Homo sapiens: one gene and its partners. The protein of the gene in region 1 purifies or fractionates together with the protein of each later gene. This does not show direct contact. Each region holds a gene or a part of one and is shown on either strand. Other genes may lie near its edges.

Region 1 (8,109 bases):
TGCACTGACATATTAAATAGCATGTTAAATTTTGGGTTACACTAAGTCAGCATAGAAGTACATAAGAAATCAGTCCTTTTGTTAATTTTATTTCCTTAAGTTACTATCTTTTTTTTTTTTAATAGAGATGGGGGTCTCACTATGTTGACCAGGCTGGTCTCAAACTCCTGGCCTCAAGTGATCCTCCCATCTCAGCCTCACAACGTGCTAGGATTACAGACATGAGCCACTGCACCCGACCGAATTACCATCTTGTAAGAAAAGTTTTCCTGGCCAGGTGCAGTGGTTCATACCTGTAATCCCAGCACTTTGGGAGGCCAAGACAGGTGGATCACCTGAAGTCAGGAGTTCGAGACCGGCCTGACCAACATGGTGAAACCCTGTCTTTACTAAAAATACAAAAATTAGCCAAGTGTAGTGGTGCATGCCTATAATCGCAGCTACTCGGGAGGCTGAGGCAGGAGAATTGGTTGAACCCAGGAGGTAGAGGTTGCAGTGAGCCGAGATCATGCCATTGCACTCCAGCCTGGGCAACAAGAGTAAAATTCCGTCTCAAAAAAAAGCAAGAAAAAGAAAAGTTTTACAGTCCCTATCGCTAAGATTTAGCAAACAAGTCCAGTATGTATGTATTTACTTATTTATTTTTAAGAGACAGGGTCTCACTCTGTCACCCAGCCTGGATTGCTATGGCATGATCATACCTCACTGCAGCCTTGAACTCCTGGCCGTAAGCAATCCTCCCACCTCAGCCTCCTTCCGAGTAGCTGGGACTACAGGTGTGTGCCACCATGCCCAGCTAATTTTTAATCTTTCTTTTTTTTTTTTTTTTTTTTGTAGAGACAGTCTCCCCATGTTGCCTACGCTGGTCGCTAATTCCTGACCTCAAGTGATCCTCCCACCTTGGCCTCTCCAAGTGCTGAGATTACAAGCGTGAGCTACCATGCCTGGCCCAGAATTTATTTTAACATACAGATAACTGTTTGAATATTGAAAAAATATATTTAGCTCTGCCTAAAGTTTGAGAAGAGTTTGCTTTCTACAGCAATTTCTAGACAGGATTGAACATTATTTTACATCAAAAAGGTTTACTAAACAGATGAGTAAAAACCAAATGTCACTGTCAGAATAAACACTTTTCATTCTTTCAGCCCAAAACCGGAGATCAAAATTCAGACCACAATAAACTGAAGGCAAATACAAAGAAAGCTGCTCTTCTGACCACCAACTTTGAGTTGCTGATGCTTTAATTGCACACATTAAAGTTTGAGAGGGCAATGGATTTCACTCCTCAAATCACTTCCAGACAAGAAGCTATTAGTTTCATGATAGCCCTCTGGCACTGCCACTTCCTCCACACCTCACATGTTGTTAGATTGCAGATATGGATAGGTCACTGACATGTCACTACAATTAGTTTTATTTGAATTCATCTGAAAAGGAAAACAGGTACATGTGTATTCATTCTAACTGCTAAGGAATCTAGACAGAAATGATCTTTCATTTTCTTTCAAACAGCTATCTGCTTACACCAAAACTCCATCTAGATTGAAGCCTTGGGTGTAAGGAGAGAAAACAGAGAAGTAGTATAATGTGTAATTTTGTAGTGTTGGTATAAGGTGAATCTTTTAAAGTAGGATATCAATATCAGAAACTGAAGAAAAAGATTAACTGACCTGAAACAACAAACTACAACCCACCATAAGCAAGATTACCAGGAAAAAAACCAAGGGTAAAATGTGAGTACCTGAGGTAGAGTCACTACCATTAATGAGCATAGATTTACTTATTGATCTGTAAGAGAAAGTTGGCCCAAAAGATGAACTCAAAGAAATATTAATTGCCAATTAAATAAGAAGCTGATTTGTTTAGCTAATATTTAAAAAAGCAAATTAGAGATCTATTTCTACTTAGGAGAAGCACAAACATTTAAGATTAAGTCTTTAAAACAGCATGTCATTGTTGCAGAGACAAGACCAAAGAGCCATTTGTCCATAGTAGCATGATTTCATCAGATACTGAAAGTAAAATTACTTGAATTTAAATGCCATTTACATCAATGCCAAAAAGAGAACTAATGTCCACACTACCCGGAGATCTCCACCAAGAAACAGAAAAAAATCAAAGTAACCACCATTCAACATGCTTTATCAAGCTGCCAATCCAATAAGAAACGGCCCAAACTAAGACTCTTCAACTTCTTAAAACAAGTAATTTTAATCACATAAAAAAGGAGAAGCAAAAAAGCACAATCATGAAAGAAAAAACTGACACATTTGGACTTTTATTAAAAATACAGCCTGGGAGGCCGGGTACAGTGGCTCATGCCTGCAATCCCAACACTCTGGGAGGCCGAGGTGGGCAAATCACCTGAGGTCAGGAGTTCAAGACCAGACTGGCCAACATGATGAAACCCTGTCTCTACTAAAAATACAAAAATTAGCTGGGCGTGGTGGCTCATGCCTGTAATCCCAGCTACTCAGGAGGCTGAGGCAGGAGAACTGCTTGAACACAGGAGGTAGAAGTTGCAGTGAGCTGAGAACCAAGATCACGTCACTGCCCTCCAGCCTGGGTGACAAAGCAAGAATGCCTCAAAAAAAACAACCTGGGCAACATGATGAGACCGTGTCTATACAAAAAATACAAAAATTAGCTGGGCGTGGTGGTACCCACCTGTAGTCTCACCTACTCAGGAGGATCACTTGAGCTCAACAGGCAGAGGCTGCAGTGAGCAGAGATCGCACCACTGCACCCCAGCCTGGCTGACAGAGTGAAACCCTTTCTCAAAAAAATAAATAAAAAACAGCCTTGTGAAAGACACAGATAAGAGAACAAAAATACAAGGCACGGATTGGGAGAAAATATTTGCAAAACATGTGTGACAGATGACCTGCATCCAAAATATACAAAGAACTCTTAAAACTCAAAACTCAAAAAAAAAAAGAGCAAAAGATTTCAACAGGTGCCTCAAAGACGATACACAGATGGCAAATAAACACATAAAAAGATGTTCAAGGCCGGGCGCAGTGGCTCACGCCTATAATCCCAGCACTTTGGGAGGCCGAGGCAGGTGGATCACAAGGTCAAGAGATCAAGACCATCCTGGCCAACATGGCGAAACCCCATCTCTACTAAAAGTACAAAAATTAGCTGGGCATGGTGGCACGTGCCTGTAGTCCCAGCTACTCAGGAGTCTGAGGCAGGAGAATCGCTTGAACCCAAGAGGCGGAGGTTGCAGTGAGCCAAAATCGCACCACTACACTCTAGCCTGGTGACAGAGCGAGACTCCGTCTCAAAAAAAAAAAGAGACGTTCAACATCAAATGTCATTAGGAAACTAGAAATCAAAACAATGAGATACCACCACATGCCGATTAGAATAACTAAAATGCAAAACAAGAGGCCAGGTATAGTGGCTCACTCCTGTAATCCCAATATTTTGGGAGGCATGAATTACTTGAGACCAGGATTTCGAAACCGACCTGGGCAACAAGGCAAAACCTTGTCTCTACAAAAAAATACAAAAATTAGCCAGGCACGAGAGCACATGCCTGTAGTCCTAGCTACTTGGGAGGCTGAGATGGGAGGATTGCTTGAGCCAGGGAGTTTGAGGTGGGTGATCATGCCATTGCACTCCAGTCTGGGCGACAGTGAGACCTTGTCTCAAAACAAACAAACAAAAATCCAAAACACTGACATCAAATGTTGGCAACTATGAGAAGCAAGAGGACCTCAATTCATTGGTTCCGATACCACATTACCGTTGTATAATGGTATCAGAATTGTTAACCAGCTGCCCCACGGAAACCAACTTTATCAATTAGAGTGCTTATGTGCACTTCCTTTGGCCTTTGTCTTATAGACTCCACTCATCTCCAAAGCTGCTTGGATCAACACTTTACCCTCATGCCCTTTAGTAAGGTGATTTCCTACATTTGTAATGCAATGTAAAATATAATGTAAAAATCACTTTGGAAGACTGACAGTTCCTCACAAAGCAAAATATAGTCTTACCGTATGAGCTGGCAATAGCACTCCTATATATGTGCCCAACTAATTTGAAGACTTGTTTCGCAAAAACCTGCATGCAAATGTTGACAGCCAAAACATGATAACTGCCAAAAACCAGAAGCAGCCAAGATACCCTTCAGTAGACGAATAAACTGAGGTACTTCCATATAATGAAATAATGGAATATGATTTTGTGATAAACAGAAATGAACAAGCTCTCATGCCTCCAAAAATACACAGATGAATCTTCAATGCATATTGCTAAGTGGAAGAAGCCCACCTAAAAAAGCTACATACTGTTATGATTCCAATTACATGATATTCTGGAAAAGGCAATAGAGACAGTAAACAGATCAGTGGTTGCCAGAGATGGAAGGGTTGGAAGGGATGAGTAGTTGAGACACAGGATTTTTTTTTTCTTAAGAGCAGCGAAACTATTCTCTATATCATAATGGTGGATACATGGCATTGTGTATTTGTCGAAATTCATAGAACTTTACAGCAAACACACAAAAATCAATCTCAGGATATGAAAATGTAAATGATTCCATCCTGGGCATGCAGATTGTGACAAAAAAATCTCATTGCATTACAAATGTAGGAAACCACCTTACTAAAGGGCATGAGGGTAAAGTGTTGATCCAAGCAGCTTTGGAAATGAGTGGAATCTATAAGACAAAGGCCAAAGGAAGTGCACATAAGCACTCTAATTGATAAAGTTGGTTCCCACGTGGCAGCTGGTTAACAATTCTGATACCATTATACATGTATATTGGAATTGAATAAGTAAAAGGATGGTGGGCGGTGAAATCCAGGTTTCACACTTTTGGAGTGGGAGTTTACAGGTAAACAGGAGGAAGTTAGAATGAAACGTGGTAATGGATTCAAGTTGAAGACATCAGTATGAATTCATGGTATGCTTAATGAAGAGATAGATGGATAAATCTATACACAGATTACTATCCACATATATTCCCTTGCTGTGTCAGCTGAAAGCCTAAAAGTAGTGACACCATAGTAGCAATGAGTACACCAAGTGCCCAGAGCTTGGTTTCTAATAACATTCTCCAAGAAAAGGAAACAGGGCTCCTTGGAGAAGTGGTTCGATTCTAGGACTGGAGCAGGAAATATACACGATGAGGCCTGAGCATCTTGTATCAGAAAGTAAGGAAGTACAAGGCCAGGCGTGGTGGCTCACACCTGTAATCCTAGCACTTTGGGAGGCTGAGGCGGGCAGATTACCTGAGGTCAGGGGTTAGAGACCAGCCTGGCCAACATGGCAAAACCCCATCTCTACTAAAAATACAAAAATGAGCCGGGTGTGGTGGTGCATGCCTGTTAATCCTAGCTACTCAGGAGGCTGAGGCAGGAGAATCGCTTGAACCCAGGAGGTGAAGGCTGCAGTGAGCCAAGATTATGCCACTGCACTCCAGCCTGGGCGACAGAGTGAGATTCCATCTCAAAAAAAGAAAAAAAAAAAAAGGAAGTGTAAAAACAAACCAAAAAAAAACCACACACACGCAAGACAAAACTGCAATGATTTTCCCAGGAACCTGGTAAAACAAAAAGAGCAGGCCGGGCACGGTGGCTCATGCCTGTAATCCCAGCACTTTGGGAGGCTGAGGTGGGTGGATCACAAGGTCAGGAGTTCAAGACCAGCCTGGCCAATATGGTGAAACCCCGTCTCTACTAAAAATACAAAAATTAGCCAGGTGTGGTGGTGGGTGCCTGTACTTCCAGCTACTTGGGAGGCTGAGGCAGAAGAATCGCTTCAACCTGGGAGGCTGAGGTTGCAGTGAGCCAAGATAGCGCCACTGCACTCCAGCCTGGGCGACAGAGTGAGACTCCGTCTCAAAAAGAAAAAAAAAAAAAAAGAAAGAAAAAAAGTTCCCAGTGGCCAAAGTTGCAATGATCTGAACCACAAAATAAAGTATTGCATTATAGCTCAAGAGATAAAATAAATACCCAGGAGTCTACATCTTTAAATAAATAAATGATTAAATAAATAAGGGAGAACAGCCTTATCTCTGGCACAGAATTCCAGATAATTTATGGCAATACTCCATCCACTCTCTACTCCTTAAGTGTGGGCTATTCATAGTAACTTCCTTTGAAGAAATACAGCACGGAAAGGGGAAAAAATAGTAACTTTACAGTGGAGAAACCAGACAAACACTCTCTGAGTCAGAAGATCAAGCTGACATCCACAGTTAAAAGTCATAAGAGTTTACATCCCTGGTATGTGATAAGAATGCACTTTACCTCTGATCTCCCTCTCAAAAACCCATAAGCCCAATTTAATCATGAGAAAAACTAAGAAAATCTGAATAAAATGTGGACTTGAGTTAATAGTTATATATCAATATTGGTTCATTGAATGTGACAAATGTGCCATATTAATGCAAGATGTTAGTAGGAGAATTAGTAGGAAATTCAGTGTGGGGTATATGGGAACTCTCTGTACTGCCTTCACAATTTCTGTAAATCTAAAACTATCCTAGCCAGGTACAATGGTGTGCACCTGTAGTCCCAGCTACTCGGGAGGCTGAGGTGGAGAATCACTTGAGTCCAGCCTGGGCAACATAACAAGACCCTGTCCCTTTAAAAAAAATAAAATAAAATAAAAATTATTCTAAAATAAAACATCTATTAAAGAAAATGAGGGTGACTATCTATATACATTATATACATTTCCATAGAAAACAGCTGTGCAAACTAGGCACAAAAGCAGATACAACATTCTACCTGGTTCTAGACTTTATCTGTACATATGGTACAACTAAGCTATTTTGATTTTTCCACTTCAAATATTTGATATTAAGCTATCCTTACGTCAAGACAAAACCCACTCTACTATGATGAAAGGTACATTGCTATGGAGGACAGGTATAAAGGAAACACAATTAGCCTGGACAATAAATGAACACTTACAGTAGCAGTTCTCTGCTCATCAAACTTTGAAAGTTTCTGAAGTTCTCTATAAACTGTTCCAAGTGGTGCATATTCCAGAATTAGGTAGACTCTGGTAGCATCATGGAAATAACCATACAGTCTAAGAATATTAGGATGCCTGCAACAAAGGATAAACATTCTAACACTTGGTTTGGAGCTCACAGAAGACTATGTACAAAATGTCAAACAAACTCTTCATGTAAAACCAGTGGTGTTTCACATGAAACCACACTCCAAACCCCACTTTAGAATCTGAAACTATAAACCCACTCCAAGAAAAATACATACACCCACATATCATTTTAAAAGCACTTCACAGTATTAATGGACCTCTGGTTTAGTTAAGACTATTTCCTTCCTTTAGGCACCTTTATTCTTAGGAGGAAAATTCAGCTGAATATTAATTATCTACATATTAAAAAAAGGACATGGCCGGGCACAGTGGCTCACGCCTGTAATCCCAGCACTTTGGGAGGCCGAGGCGGGAGGATCGCGAGGTCAGGAGTTCAAGACCAGCCTGGCCAACATGGTGAAACCTCGTCTCTACTAAAAATACAAAAATTAGCTAGGCTTGTTGGTGCATGCCTGCAATCCTAGCTACTCAGGAGGCTGAGGCAGGAGAATCGCTTTAACCTGGGAGGCAGAGGTTGCAGTGAGCTGAGATTGCGCCACTGCACTCCAGTCTGGGCAACAGAGCGAGACTCCATCTCAAAAAAAAAAAGGAAAAAAAAAAAGGACATGGCATTGCCACAGTAGTTTGACACCCAGACACTGTGACAGATAAAAGCAGTGATCAGTAATGGCAGTAGATGGGTGCTGAGCAGACTGGGCAGGTGCAGACTGTGGCCAGCGGGAAGCAGGCAATGGGAAGCACAGCCCATGTGAGATGCCTGCCCCTCCCAGCCCCAGCCAGGTGTTGCCAGGCAGAGACACACCAGGCCTGATGTGGCCAGACTTGAAGTATTAGCATCTGATTCAAATTTGAAAAACACTGAAAGAAAAAAAGGAAAAACAAAAACCCACCAGCCGTAGTCAACCTGCAGGTAGCTGCTCGCAATTCCTGCATACCTCAGAATAAGGGGTGCCATTCCCCTTCACTGTCCACCAGAAAGACTTGCCCATATAAACTATTCTATTAACAAAACATTAA
Region 2 (8,109 bases), on another chromosome or scaffold:
GTTCTTTGGAAGACTAATTTTCTTCATTGTAAAGTTACACTTACTGCTGAGTAAGTCAACCATATGTACAAGAAACTGGAGAGAATGACAAAGGTGAGGGGAATCATACCTGCTCTTTTTCATTCACTCACAGCAAACCATGGAGTCCATGTTTTGGGAACCATTATGTACGCAAAGACCAACTAATGAGTATGTTTCCTTTATAAATAGCAGCCTACTAAATAAACAAATACATACATACAAATATACAGTCTTGCCACAGGAGTTACACACACAGTGAAAGGAATGACATTAAGAGTATTTTTTTTGTCACCATGAAAGTATCTTAAGAGAAAGTAAAGGGATATGTGAAAGGTTGATCTAAAATTCAAGACCTCTTCCACGAAAATATTTTCTGTGCACATAAGATGAAGGAACAATCTCACTACGGAAAATATACCTGTTGGTTTTACAATGCTATAACTTATTTACATGTGTAAATAAATATGCAGGAGTTTAAATAGTCCACAAATATTGACAGCTTACTCTGTACCAGGCAATGTATTAACTGCTAGGGAGTAAGGGAGAGAACAGCCACCAGTCCCTATTTCTGCAGAACTTTCAGTCTACCTCTTGAAATATGATGTCAAACACTAGGCATGTGGTCTCAAGCAAGTCACAACAGTCCTGATTAAATGATGATCTCAAATCCTTGTGATGACCTAAGAAGATATATGTGAAAGTAGCTTATACATCATGTTACCTAAGGTAAAAAGAGATATGTGGCCTTTTGTGCAAAGCACTGTATATAGCAATCATCTTCAATATAAATTATCTCATTTCTTTTAACTGGCAAAAAAGTAATCACTCAAGTTGCTTAATATAATCTCTTTTCACAGTCTCTAAGATTTTAGTATTATCTTTCTCTGCCAATGACCCACATGAAATAACTGAAATTAATTTCCCCATTTTTTTCTAATACAAAAAGCCTTGTTTCCTGATGTCATAATTTATAGGGGTTGGGGGGCAGGCAGCCACAGATCAAAAGCAACTTATTCTAACTCAAGAAAAAAATTATCTTTTAATCTAAGAATCATCATGGAAAGTTTGTTATAGGCTCAGGCTAATCCAAACAGAGTTAGTGACAGGTTAATTGTGGTACTTTGAAAGCAAAGGAGAGCAAGTAGCAATTATTCATACCTTCACTCAGTCTCTAGGACCTAACTCTTAAAAAACAGGGAGATACATATTACAGCCAAACGGCTTTCCAAAAAACATAATTTTTTAAAATATGTTCTACAAAATATTAATTCTTCATATCTAGAAGAAATAGAGTACTTACATTGCTTCTTATCCTACTATTTGTCCTTTTCAAATTCAGCCACCTCAACAATGCAAAAAGTATTGAACTGATGTTTTAAATTTATTTTTACCCTTATTGCAGATACGACTCTCAAGAGCATGGGACATTTTTTTTTTTTTGAGATGGAGTCTCGCTCTGTCACCCAGGCTGCAGTGCAGTGGCACAATCTCAGCTCACTGCAACCTCCGCCTCCTGGGTTCAAGAGATTATCCTTCCTCAGCCTCCCAAGTAGCTGGAACTACAGGCGCGTGCCACCACGCTGGGCTAATTTTTTGTATTTTTAGTAGAGGCGGGTTTCACGGTGTTAGCCAGGATGGTCTCGATCTCCTGACCTCATGATCCGTCTGCCTTGGCCTCCCAAAGTGCTAGGATTACAGGCCTGAGCCACCGCGCCCAGCCTAGCATGGGACATTTTAAAGGTATTCATGATCCAACTAAACTGGACCAGCAAAACTAGTGAAATGCCCAAAAACAAGCATCTATAAATGCTCAATATTAAACCTTAAGAGTCTAAAGCAGTAGTATCCAAAGCAAGTATAACATATGCACGGTGGCTCACACCTGTAATACCAGCACTTTGGGAGGCCAAGGCAGGCAATTCACTTGAAGCCAGGAGTTCCAGATCAGCCTGGCCAACATGGCAAAATCCCGTCTCTAGTAAAAAATACAAAAATTAGCCAGGCATGGTGGCACACACCTGTAATCCCAACTACTCAAGTGGCTGAGGCGCAAGAATCACTTCAACCCAGGAGGCAGAGGTTGCAGTGAGCCAAGATCGCACCACTGCACACCAGCCTCGGTAACAGAAAAAGACTCTTGTCTAAAAAATATATACATATTATACATACACATATATATATGTTATATATACACATATATATTATATATTATGTATACACATATACAATGTATACACATATATATTAAATATATACACACACACACATACATACATACACACACGCACACGCATACCTCCAGGAGTAACCAAGACACCCCAGGGTAAAAAAGGAAAATATCTGAACTTTATTTTTAATTATCATCCTTGTTGATTTTTTGTTCGTATTTTATAAAGTCCACAATAATCAGTTACTATACATATATTATTTGTAAATCAAATATCTAAGGATTAAGAATTGATGCTCAATTTTTTTCTTTTTCTCTTTTCTCAAAGCAACAACACGAAGTCCTATCAATTTTTTTTTTCTGACTTCATTCTTCCCATCTCATCTTTTTTTTTTTTCTAAAGAGATGGTCTCGCTATGTTGTCCAGGCTAGAGTACAGCGGCTATATTCATAAGCACAATCACAGTGAACTTTAGCCTTGAACTCCTGGCCTCAAACATTCTCCTGCCTCAGCCAACTAAGTAGATGGGACCACAGAACCATGTACCGCACCTGCTTAATGCTCAAAATTTTTTAGTGATGGGGTAAGCAACCAAAAAGTTTGAAGACCACTGGTCTACACCACTCCCTTGTCACTGATCTTTCATTTTTATCAGCTCCCTCCGAAGAGTTAAGCTATGGAAGTAAGTCCTGATGCTGAAAAAGAAACAGAAAACTGTTTCAAACTACTTTAAACTCCCAACAAGCTAAAGATGACAAATCACTAGCAAGAATATATGGAATTGAATACTAATACACTGTTGATGGGAATTTGAAATAGACATCCTATCTAAAGGGCATCTTGAGTATATCTAAATTTAAAACACACGTACCGTTTGACCTAATAATCCCACTTTTTTTTTTCTTTTGAGACTGAGTCTCACTCTGTGGCCCAGGCTAGAGTGCAGCAGCTTAATCTCGGCTCACTGCAACCTCTGCCTCCTGGGTTCAAGTGATTCTCTGTGCCTCAGCCTTCCAAGTAGCTGGAATTACAGAGGCCCGCCACCACACCCGACTGATTTTTGTATTTTTAGTAGAGACGGGGTTTTACCATGTTGGCCAGCCTGGTCTTGAACTGCTGACCTCAGGTGATCCACCCGCCTTGGCCTCCCAAAGTGCTGGGATTACATGCATGAGCCACCACGCCCAGGTAATAAACCCACTTTTAAGAATTTATCCTGGGCCAGGTGCAGTGGCTCAGGCCTGTAATCCCAGCACTTTGGGAGGCGGAGGCAGGTGGATCATGAGGTCAGGAGATCGAGGCCATCCTGGTCAACATGGTGAAACCCTGTCTCTACTAAAAATACAAAAAATTAGCCGGGCGTGGTGGCATGCGCCTGTACGCCCAGCTACTCAGGAGGCTGAGGCAGGAGAATCGCTTGAACCCGGGAGGCAGAGGCTGCAGTGAGCCTAGATCGCACCACCGCACTCCAGCCTGGGCGACAAAGTGAGACTCTGTCTCAAAAAAAAAAAAAAAAAGAATTTATCCTAAGGAAATAATAAAATAATAGAACAATTCAATGCAATTCAATGTCCAAACGAGTTCATCACAGTACTGCTTTAAGAGAAAAATTGACAATATCCATTAATAACACAGAACTGCTATAAACTATGATGCATCCATATTATAAACACTAAATGCTCATTAAGGGAATATCAATTTTACAGGGAAAGTTGTTCTTTTTAAAATTATTTCAATAGATATGTATAAGAAAAAAAACAAAAATACCAAACATTACATCCAGATGGGATTACAGGTCATCTCTACTTTTTTTTTTAAAAAACACTAAAACCGTTCTGGGCCAGGTGCAGTGGCTCACGCCTGTAATCCCACCACTTTGGGAGGCGAAGGCAGGCGGATCACCTGAGGTCAGGAGTTCGAAACCAGCCTGGCCAACATGGTGAAACCCTGTCTCTACTAAAAATACAAAAATTAGCCAGGCGTGGTGGCAGGTACCTGTAATCCCAACTACTCAGGAGGCTAAGGCAGCAGAATTGCTAGAACCAGGAGGCTGAGGTTGCAGTGAGCTGAGATCACACCACTGCATTCCAGCCTGAGTGACAGAGCGAGACGCCATCTAAAAAAAAAAAAAAAAAAAAAAGTTCCGTAGCTTTCATAACCAGAAATAATTTCATTTTGAAATTTAAAATAAGATTAAGTTAAAACTCCAAATTATAGTGTCCTATATCACTTCCAAAACTCTTTATAAACACTCTGCCTTCCCATGTCATTTGTGGAATCAGTCTAAACAATTAAATATTTGGTTTATCTCATGGAAAAATGATAGGCATAGAATAAATAACAACCCTATTTCAAGTTATAACCATCTTGTCTTCATACCAATTCTTGCCAGTTATGTCATGATTTATCAATATACTTATAATTTCCTTATATTTTGCCAGATTATAAATCTATGAATAATTCTGAAAACTAAATAAATTTATATTTCTCTTCTGCAACTAAGTTATAAAAGTATTAACGACTTGGGGAGGCTGAGGCAGGGAGAATCACTTGAACCCAGGAGGCGGAGGTTACAGTGAGCCGAGATCGCGCCACTGCACTCCAGCCTGGGCAACAGAGCGAGACTCTGTCTCAAAAAAAAAAAAAAAAAAAAAAAGTATTAACTAATAAAGAAATTAGATTTCGACCCCAGGTAAGTGAAATCAGAAAAGCTTGCTATCATCTGTCATAACAGAATCATTCTGAATATCCGTAGTTATCAGCATCAAGACAATACCTCTGTGGTTAAAGTACTCCATACTCCATGTTAAGGGAAAAGAGTACTTAAGAATATTATTACAGCATAAGTTCATGTGCTTTGTTCATTAAATCAACAGTTCAGAACATAGCTATGAGGTATTTCACCACTAACAGAATAGCTTTAAGGTAACCCACCTTCACAATTTTCTTTTTGTTTTCGTTAGTTTCATGCCTTACTATTTTATAGACAGTCATTCTATCCACATTGCCCAAGTACTATGTCCCCAAACAACGACGACAAAGTTTTATCACAACCCAAAAGAAAAAAACAACCTTTTAGGCCAGGCACAGTGGCTCATGTCTACAATCCCAGCACTTTGGGAGGCCAAAGCAGGAGGACTACCTTTGAGCCCAGGAGTTCAAGACCAGCCTGGGCAACGTAGCAAAACCCTGTCTCTACAAAAAATGAAAATTATAATTTTTAAAAAGAAAAAATACATTTTACACGGCAACCAAGTATACATACATAAAAATATCTTTTAAAAAGAAACAAAAGTTTCCCAAATCTTGAACCCGGGAGGCAGAGGTTACAGTGAGCCGAGATCGTGCCACTGCACTCTAGCCTGGGCAAACAGAGCAAGATTCTGTGTCCAAAAAAAAAAACAAAACAAAACAGTATTAACTACTAAAGAAATTAGATTTAGACCCCAGATAAGTGAAATCAGAAAAGCTTGCTACCATCTGTTGTAACAGAATCATTCTGAATATCTGCAGCTATCAGCATCAAGACAATACCTCTGTGTCTATATTTACTTTTACTTTATGCAATGTACTGATATATTCTCTTTCTGAAAATGCTTTTTTAAATAAGTACATTGATTTCATTACCCTATGACACTGCCACCTGCTACTTAAAAACACAGCCTTAGAACTTTACACAGAATGTGCTGAACTCCTTGCTCCTACCACCTTCTACCACTGCTCCAACATAAGAAAATGGGTGAAATCTAGCCAAGTCTATTCCAAGTAGAGACCTTGGCATAAATGTGAGACATCCCAGGTTCCTCTGAAGTCCCTGCAACATTGTGACTATTCCGACTGGCAGACAGGATACATGTGCTGAAAGGTTTCTCCAGCCAGAGTACAGAAGCAGAAACCTTCTCTGTTGCCATATCAGTGATATTGGTAAATTCTGCACTTGACAATACAGACTAGGTTTACCACTGCTCCACAAGCCAATTCTTCAAAGACATAAAATAGGATTCTAATACAATACGATTCTAATACCAGCCCCTTACATTTTTAGAATGCTTTTCATATACACTATTGTTTGATCCACAGTCTGTTAGAAAAGTAGAAAAGTTGCTCTTCTTCCTTTCACTAATGAGGGAACTGGAGCTCAGGGGGGTTATGTAGCTTGCCAGAAACAACATGGGTAATGAAGAATAACAACCCAGGCTTGAACCCAAGATTTACTATCTACCCACTTTCATGCTACAATTTTCATTTTTAATATCTGATACAAATATGAACTTAAAAGGTATATTGTTTCTAGATACAAAAGCAAAGATGAAAGCATATCAGTATTGATATCACAAAATTAAGATTAAAAATAGCAATGACATGTTAATAATTTGGTAGCCTCTAAAGTTACTGGGAGTTCTAGTTCAATCCAGTATGAATCTGATATCATCTTATAACTTAAATCAATGTTACACTGATTATAAATTTATCTATATATTCATCATAGAAAATTACAGAATTAGGTGGTAAGAAACAGCTAGCTATATAAATTGCACAAACTCCCCCCAAACCATTCTCAAGTCTCATGACTTCACACTAAATTATGAAGTTCCCAATGTAAAACCCAATTTGATTTCAACACTAAGCCAATTACAACAGCATAAGCATGTTCTTTCTACATAACACTTGCAACATACATTCAACATCGGAAGCACTTTTGGACAATGTCTAAAATCCATAAGCTAAAAGCAGAACCCAACACAGAATCTTGTTTCTTTTAAATAATAAAAGTTCATCTACCTATATGAGATGAATACCAAATAACATAATTAGAAATGATTAAAAATTTGCAGAATCAGGCTAGAGAAACTACTTGAGGTCAAAGACTATAGGCCCTTAATTGTATATATGAGAAAACTGACGCCCAGAGAAGTTAAGTGACATTCCCAACAGCAATAAATGACACAGATGGAATCAGAATATATGTCTGTCAATCCAGAACTTCCCACTATTCTATACTACCTTTGCACTTACTGTGCTCTTAAAAAAGTAACTAACATCTGAAACACTTAAGATTCATTAAGACTCAAAAACTAGGGGACTCGATAATGTTCATGACAGTCTTTAGAAAACAATTTCTTAAAGGAATCTCAAAAATTCCAAACAATAAGCACTGAAAGCTGGCTCTTCATTTTCATTTTCTTTCCTACCCAGAGCCCTATTTGATCAAAAATTGGCTCTTTAATCCATTGCAAAATATCAGGTAGCTTTTAATAACTAACACTGCTATAAACCACCATAACTGTTCTTTTTCCCATATCAATAGTATTCACTTAATTAAAAAATATCTGAGGGCACAGAATATGCGGATAACTGCGCTGGATACTGGGGACACCAGGGAACAAAACAGACAAGGCCTCTGGCTCTTCTAATGGACAGCTGGGTGCAACTCTAAAAATACTACTCTATGATTTGACAGGATATTTACCAAAGCCCTTCACTACTCTACACAATTGTAACAACATTTTCTTCCACCTCTTCCAAACTTGTAAGAACCTTCACCACACCCCCCTCTAAAACACGAATACTTCCTTTGGTAACAGCATTCCACTTTACTGAAGAAGGTGTGAACGTGTTAACTAGAACTACAGCAGATTTTTAAACTGACTTTACCACTCCTCATGGCCTGCGGCAAATCTCAAGAACTTTTCACAATACATAGTAACCCTTCCTGGTTCACAACCCGGGTCTCAAATGATTGCTAACACACCCATCCTACCCTCCACTAGAAATCTGAGTCAGATGGTTTAGGAGCAACCATAATGGTGGGAAGCATCTTCAGTGGACCCCTTTATGAGCCAGAAGCCGACTTACTCCCTCTCCTTCTCTGTTTATTTCCTCTGGATCCTTCAATATATCTCTGGATACAGTATATCTC
Region 3 (7,918 bases), on another chromosome or scaffold:
GACACTGTGGTAACACTTTTTATTTTATTTTATCTTGAGACAGAGTCTTGCTCCATCGCCCAGGCTGGAGTGCAGTGGCGCGATCTTGGCTTGTTGCAACCTCTGCCTCCCGGGTTCAAGAGATTCTCCTGCCTCAGCCTTGTGAGTAGCTGGGACTACAGGCATGCACCACCACGCCTGGCCTGCAGCTTTCATTTTAAATCCTCGTAATGTCCCTATAAGCCAGGCATCCCCTTTTACTGTTAAGATAACCGACACAGGGAGGTTATGTAATTTGCCCAAGGCCAAACAGCTTGTAAGTGTTAGAGGTGAGATTTGAACCCAGGTCTTTCCCTCTTCTCACCACATAATTCTACCTTTCCCTCTTCCTTACTCCCCCATTTTTCCTTCTTTGGGTAGGACAGGGGACTAGATGCCCTCTGAAGTTCCTTCTGTTTCTATGTCCCTGATTCTGCGATAATCCCGTGATTCTCTATCCGCTGAGCGCTGTTGGATATATTCTCATTATATTTATTTTCGTTTATTTTTCCTTGTCCTTTGTGCCTAACTTTTAATGTTTCTGAGCCCACTACCTTCTTTCAAACCTCCACTCCCTTGGCTCCTCTCTCCCAATTTTCCATCTTCCCTTGTACCTTGGAACTGGACACTGGTGTGAATGGGGGAACCATCAGTTGTACTTTCAGGCACGGAAGACCACACAAATGTGTGGTAATCCCGAACACAGGCAGCCTCCACCTGTGAAAGCCCAAGGTTGGAGAAAGGTATGGTCATGGAACTACCTTCTATGGATGGAAGAAAGGGCTGAGGGGTTGAATAAGGGGGGCAGGATGGAGCTACAGTGGCAACAATGACAAGAGAAAGGGAAAGTGGAGGGACACTAATGTGTCAGTAAAGAACAAGGCTAAGATGGAGAAAATATGTGCTTTGGTTATACAGGCGGCCTCTGTCATCTGTGACATCTTTCTCTCTTCTTCTCTATCAACCTGAGGTTGAGAATCCAAGAGCCCAATCATTCCCCTTATTCCAACCAACTCACAGCCCATAAACCTAAGCCAAAAGGGGTTCCAGAGATACCTTGAAGATGCCAATCCAGTCACTGGCACTGGGCATGGTGCCTGGGGGAAGGGTGTAGTGACATTCCACCTTGGTGTTGGGGATGTAGGTCCGGGCTACATTGAGAAAGTTGACTCCACCACGGGATGGTGCCCGGCTTAGTGGTGATTCTTCCATCCTGGCCTTGAGATATCTGTCCTCCTATGAAAGAAAGGGTTGATAGCCTAAAGTCTTTCCAGTCCACCTCCTTCCCCCCACAGCTCCAGCACCACACACTCACAGCCCCTGCCACTACACCTGGAGATAAGGCATACCTGGTTTCTAGTCCCTGAGGGTTACGGGACATTTTTGAGGTATCACTCTTAGTCTCTAGGACGTAGGTCTGGCCTTCCAAGTCCGTCCCCATCCTGTCTCACACTGTACCCGCTCTGGCTCATAGACCCTTCTGAGGGTTCAGACTTCTCTAATTTTGCTCCCAAAAGGACACTGACGGGGACAGAGCCTGGGATACTGCGACTTGGTCGACAGCCTCCATTTCTCCATCCCATCTCCCACACATCCTGGCTCTTGAATACAAAATCCAACTGAGGTGTGGGGCCCTCTCATTGAGAGAGGTGTCCTTACCTACTCCTAAGCTTGTTGACCCAGCTGTATCCAGGAATGAGTTATGACATCAGAAAGCAGCAACTAATCTCTGAAAGGAATGGTTGAGTTTTCAGAGCTAGAATATGGCTGGGGGTCGAGGGGAACTGAGCCCAAATCCTTAGGCTCCTGAGCTCTCAGCTCTTTTCATCTCTCTGAGCTGCCTACCCCCATGAATTCTAGGGAAGCAGAAAGCTTCTGCTGGCATCCAAGAGACAAAGGGAAGGGGAGGATATAAGGAAAGACAGGTTCTGTCCCTTGACTTATTATTCCAGGAAGTCAAGAATTCTGGAGGCGGCAACTTCAAGGGTGGAGTGAGGCGCTTAGCAGGAACGTGGTGGGGGTGGGGAGATGGAATGTGGGGGCCTGGAGCCAGGAAAGCCCCACCCCAGGGCAGGGAACAGACTAGAAAGTGGGAAGTAAGGGGCCCCAAGAAGTGGAAATGTATATTTAACGTTGAGGAAAGGGGAGATAGTTCAAAAAGAACCTAACATTCTTCTCTCCAGACTGTGCCTGCAGCAGGACTAGAAACCTACTGGTTTCACTTTAGTATTTCTCTCCTCATTTTCTCTCTGCTCCCCTCAGCCTCCATCCTTCCATCTGTTTGTATTGGTAGCTGGAGACACACTACAGGATGGGGTTGAGAGGAAGGGGTGTTCCAAGTTAGCTGGGGAGAGTTAATTGGAAAATATGAGGGTGGGGTGAGGACAGATAACAATAATAACGATCAAAAGAACTCCTCAGTCCAGGGCTGTGAGATGGCCCTCTTATTCATCACTCCTTTCCAGCCCACTAATCTATTTCCTGTGTCACTCACAGCTGACATGTCCAACCAGCCATTGTCACTAGTCATATGCACGCCCCCAAACATCACAAACCCACACCAGGCTGAAGTCCAGGGGACAGGAACTTTAAAAGAAAACAGAAACTCAGTGGATAAAGGTGAGCCAGCAACACAAAAAGGAGCAACTTCTGTCCCCCAAATAGGTAGAACAAAAAGTTTTTTTTAATGTTCATCTCCCTGAAAAATTCCTGGTTGAAACTAATCCATGTTTTCTCCAAATGCAATTCTTCCAGCTTTCTAAGGGTGGGGGTAAATTGTCCCCAAAGATATACCTGGAGAACCCTAAAATACACCCCACAAAGAAAATCCGTAACAGCTGTAAACGTTCTTCATGTCCGAAAGAAAGTTTTGGGCACCTAAGATGTAGGTGTGTAGCCTGATTCAGATGTTCACATGATGGGGCGGAGAGCGGGTGTCCCATCCCCTACTCTGTAGGGCTCTAGAGTTCCTTGACATTCTACACCTTGGAAGGTCCCCCTTCCTCCCCAGGGATTCAGCGTCGTAAAGGCCTTTGGATTTGCGTAGGGGAGAGAGGGAAGACGTGTAGGGGACACGTCTTGCCTGGGAGCGAATAAGCAGATTTCAGCTCCCTTGAAGGGATCAGCTTTATAGAGACGCATTGAGAAGAAGGAGAGGACGACGAGGGGGCGCCCCCCACCCCCAATCAGAGTCCCCTTGAAACCAAGAACTCCCCAAACAGCGGGGGTGGCTTCTCCAGTACGGAAAGGGTTACAACCCAAACGCTCCTGTATTCCCCTTCGACAGTTCCCTTACGTTATCCTTCCCCAAACTGGAAAGTGGGGTGACCCTCCCCTCCCATAAGATCGCCCCCAATTAGGCCAAGTTTCTTACCCAACAGACGGATCAGCTGTTCCCCTCACCTTTCACCAACAACAAAAACAGCACTCCGACTTCTGGAGGGGAGGGAGAAGAGTGGGCGCGAGGGCTTCTGGGGTTTGTGGTTCTTCTGCGCCCTTTTGCCGCTGCGTGCTCGGATCTAGGACTATACATCCCAGAAGGCTGCGCGCAAGGAGGGCGGGGAAGAGGGCGTCCGTGACGGCGGCCTCACCGCGGCATCCTGGGAGGCGTAGTTCTCACTCCTATGACAGAAAACGAGGGTGTGGCCAGCAAAGGACTTCAAGGCCCATGATCCCTTAGGAGGGGGCCGGCTGCATTAGGGGTGGCTGCTGGTTTGTAACGTGCGTTGTTGGGGGCTGGGGAGGATTTACGGCTCTAAAGCCTTCCATATAACGCTTTAACGGTGGGCAGAGCGGTTTCTGTTGCGTCCCGTCCTGTACTTTTCGCACCCACCTGTGAGATAGGCGTTAAGCGTTATGCACGCTTTATAGATGTAGAAAGTGAAGTACGGTTAAGGAGGCGGTGTGAAGTGTCAAAGCTATGAAATGTAGAACTGCATTAGCCTTGGCTAATTCCACGTCATATATTCTTGCCACTACACCACAGCTACCCACCATTTTGGGGATGGGAAACTGATAGCTGGGGTATAGCAGTTTCTTCTTTACTTCAATCTCAGGGACAGACCTTGTAAGAATGATGTCTTCTGCACAGCTGACCATTTTTTTCCAACTTGAGGATTTCAGTGCTAAGGGGCCTGACCATATCCACATCTGGACTGGGCTCCCCCAGAGTGGCTTCTGGGTCTAGGAAGAGGATACAATTGACTGAGGTGGTGGTAGGAGCGGTGGAATGAGAAGAATGAAATTGAAAAGGGAGCTTGGCATAATTCAGGACCTGTCACAATTCACAAACAAGCCACTTATGGGGCCTGTTTGCCCAAGCCTTTTAAGTGGCTTAAATTAATTAGGATAACAATACATGTTGACGTTCCGGTTTTTATTTAGGAGAGGTGAAAGATTGACACGTCTCCCACACCCCAAGTCACGTTATAGACTTGGGCATCCTGTCCCCCCTCTCGCTATTCTCCATCCCTGTAGTCGGAGGCATTCAGAATTACCTCTTTCTCTGGCTCTGCATTAAAGGATTACAGTCTTAAGGATTGATTTCCTCTTCCTAGGTGCCTGCTTTAATTCTCTACTGCACTAAGTTATGGAGCTTCTGCCTTTTCCAAGTTTTTTGGTAGTGTTTTGCTTTTATGACTGAATGCGGTGTCTGCCCTCAGTGTCTTTCATCTGAAGATCTCCAGGCACTTAAAAATTAGTTACTGGGCTGCACAAACATTAAGGTGATGTGTCTGTGTCATTAGTCAGGATTTATGAGTTAGGGAACCAGTTTCTGGATGAGGAGGTAGCTCAAGGTCTGGAGTGGGTTAAGAGTGAGGTCTGTTCAAGGACCCAAGTCTCAAGAGTTCTTGGCTCTTGTCTTCCGCCCAAAATAAAGGTCTACGAGAAAACAGTCTCGGAGCTAAAAATGGTAACAACTTCCATTTCTTGGGTGCTTATGATCTGTTCAAACTATGCTAAGAATTTTCCCATTTAATACAACAGGCTTATGTAATACGCCTTGTTATTATCCCCATTTTACACATGATGAGATTGAGGCACAATTAATGACTTGCCTGGAGTCATCCAGCTAGTGAGTGGCAGAATCAAGATTTAAGCACAAGCAGTCACCATACTCCCAGTCCAGAAACTCTGGCATGTGATACTAACTCCCATTGTTCTAAGGAACAGTGCTGGTTCATTAACAGGAGACAAATGTTCACTGAGCATTTATGTGCTCAGTGCAAGGCACAAAGTAATGTGAAACAGATTCATTCAACAAATATGTGGCAGGTACTATGCTAGGTATTCAGTTACTTTTATTGAAAGAATGAATAGTAAATATTCATTATTTTAAAATAATATATGTAATTCATTATTTTAAAATAATAAATGTAATTCATTATTTTAATTATAGTCATTACTTTCAAATATTCAAGTATTTGAAGGATAGATTAAATTTGGATAGTTTGGCAAGATGGGGACTGGGGAGGGTAAGCTTCTTCTAGGCCAAAGCAAAGATTTGGAGGTGGGAATGGATAATGAGCCTAGAGTCACATAATAGCACATCAATTTCAACCTTTATTTATGTATTTAGGCAAACTCAGATTATTGGTAATGTCTGCCTGAAATGTTGTGTTGAGGATTCTGAGGAAAGAGTGCTGGGTAGTAATGTCTGCCATGTACTCCAGATGGAAAATGGCAGTTGTAGTGGATGGACTAATTGTTTGAAATTATTTCCTCTCTCATTCCTGCCCACTGCCATGTGACTTGCAGTATCTCCTGTAGAAGGAATAGATGTCTCATGTCATTGACTTTGGGCTTTGTCATGTTTCATAATTTGGCTGATGGGATGTGAACAGATGTGACTCATGCCATGTTTGAACACATGAGTTTCCACTTTCTTGTTCTTCTCTGCCACTAGAATGGGAATAATCCACATGAGAGTTGCTCCTTCTGCCTGGGCCTGGGAATGAGAAGACCTGTGGAGCTGAGCTACTGCTTACCCACAACCTGCATATACATAAATCAGAAGCCAGCACTGGTTGTTGTGAGTCGCTTAGATTTTGGGGTAGGTTGTGATTGCAGCAAAGCTGAATAAAAGCTACAGTTGGAGGCCAGGCGTGGTAGCTTGCTCCTGTAATCCCAGCACTTTGGGAGGCCAAGGTGGGCGGATCACTTGAGGTCAGGAGTTCAAGACCAGCCTGGCCAACTGGTGAAACCCCATCTCTACCAAAAATACAAAAATTAGCCAGGTATGGTGGCGCGTGCCTGTAATCCCGGCTACTTGGGAGGCTGAGGCAGGAGAATCGCTTGAACCCAGGAGGCAGAGGTTGCAGTGAGCCAGAATGGTACCACTGTTCTCCAGCCTGGGCAACAGAGTGACACTCTGTCTCAAAAAACAAAACAAACAACAACAACAACAACAACAACAACAAAAAGAAGCTACAGTTGGATAATTGGATAATGGAAGATAAAATTGGAAAGACAGACTTAAGCCAGAGTATAGAGAGTTTTGAATGTCAAGTGAGCCAGAGCCTATGTGTTTATCAGAACCTGTTTCTTTCTTTTTCTTGGACACACAGCTGTACCACATTTTTTTATTTTTTTATTTTTATTTTTTATTTTTTTATTTTTTTGAGACGGAGTCTTGCTCTGTCGCCCAGGCTGGAGTGCAGTGGCGCCATCTCAGCTCACTGCAAGCTCCGCCTCCCAGGTTCATGCCGTTCTCCTGCCTCAGCCTCCCAAGTAGCTGAGACTACAGGTGCCCGTCACCACACCTGGCTAATTTTTTTGTATTTTTGGTAGAGACGGGGTTTCACCGTGTTAGCCAGGATGGTCTCGATCTCCTGACCTCGTGATCCGCCCGCTTCGGCCTCCCAAAGTGCTGGGATTACAGGCAAGAGTCACCGCGCCCGGCCTAGCTATACCACATTTTTAAGCTTCTCCTTTAATTAATGTGTTCCATTTTCAAGTCTGGCCCATAAAACCCTCCAAAAAAGTTCCTTCCTATTTTTTTTCCTGTCTAGCTTGATGAAGATGACCTTAGGCACAGTGACCCTGAAGGCCACATGTTAAAGACAGTGGAGCCACAGGATGGAAGGAAGCTGGTTCCCTGAATCATCACGTGGCAGAGAGCGGACCACTAATCAGGATCATGTGTTTCAGATTTCACTTGACCAATAAATCAATTTCAATTTTGTTACACTGCTAAAATGGGTTTATTTTTTATAGTAGCTACTGTTTTCCTCATCAATACATCATGTACAAAGGTTTGGACTTCACTCCCATCAGGAATGGGAAGTTAGTCACTGAAGATTTTTTGAAAAAGGGGAATAATACTGTGAAGACAGGTGGAAGTTACAGTTATTGGGATCAAAGAATATTTCTGAGTGAGAGTGGGAGATTTGGGGACTGTTGTTTTTTTTTTAAGAATATAGTTTAACTCGTCTGGGGAAGGGAGATGACTGCCATGATTGTCGAAGGGCTCCGTAGAACTTGGGAAGGAGCTGCTGAAAAGTGAATCCATTTCCCTGAAATGTTGTCTCTTTTCTCTTTTGCAAAAGTCCTAATTCTGGTATTGCCTCATGTAGTTCGGTGCCCACCACATAATAAATGTTTAATGGAAGCTGGCCCTGGACTCTGGGAATGCTTTGAGGAGCTACCACTAGTTGAGTGCCTACTATGTGAGAGGTGCTCTTTCACCCATTGAATCATCACAATAACTGTGCAAGGTGCTATCCAGATTTTACAGATGAAGAGACTGAGACTTTAAGAGTAACTTACTGGCTGGGCGCGGTGGCTCATGTCTATAATCTCAGCATTTTGGGAGGCCAACGCCGGCAGATTGCTTGAGCACAGGAATTAGAGACCAGCCTGGGCAACATGGCAAAACCTGTTTCTACTAAAAATACAAAAA

What was found. Proteins that work in one complex are often made in the same cells at the same time.
Region 2: the proteins of AURKA (region 1) and MTMR3 purify together in Homo sapiens (affinity purification with mass spectrometry; 5 studies listed by BioGRID and IntAct, with this or other methods). This does not show direct contact.
Region 3: the proteins of AURKA (region 1) and CALCOCO1 purify together in Homo sapiens (affinity purification with mass spectrometry; 5 studies listed by BioGRID and IntAct, with this or other methods). This does not show direct contact.

What each region holds. Positions count from the first base shown.
Region 1 is NC_000020.11:56,374,495-56,382,603, forward strand, and holds part of AURKA (aurora kinase A), read right to left. Parts: intron 7,078-8,109; coding exon 6,939-7,077; intron 1-6,938. UniProt on the Homo sapiens protein: Mitotic serine/threonine kinase that contributes to the regulation of cell cycle progression.
Region 2 is NC_000022.11:29,885,505-29,893,613, reverse strand, and holds part of MTMR3 (phosphatidylinositol-3,5-bisphosphate 3-phosphatase MTMR3), read right to left. Parts: intron 1-8,109. UniProt on the Homo sapiens protein: Lipid phosphatase that specifically dephosphorylates the D-3 position of phosphatidylinositol 3-phosphate and phosphatidylinositol 3,5-bisphosphate, generating phosphatidylinositol and phosphatidylinositol 5-phosphate.
Region 3 is NC_000012.12:53,724,013-53,731,930, forward strand, and holds the start of CALCOCO1 (calcium-binding and coiled-coil domain-containing protein 1), read right to left. Parts: upstream 3,441-7,918; 5' UTR 3,392-3,440; exon of another isoform or gene 2,188-3,391; intron 1,748-2,187; exon of another isoform or gene 1,678-1,747; intron 1,255-1,677; 5' UTR 1,231-1,254; coding exon 1,075-1,230; intron 736-1,074; coding exon 633-735; intron 1-632. UniProt on the Homo sapiens protein: Functions as a coactivator for aryl hydrocarbon and nuclear receptors (NR). Recruited to promoters through its contact with the N-terminal basic helix-loop-helix-Per-Arnt-Sim (PAS) domain of transcription factors or coactivators, such as NCOA2.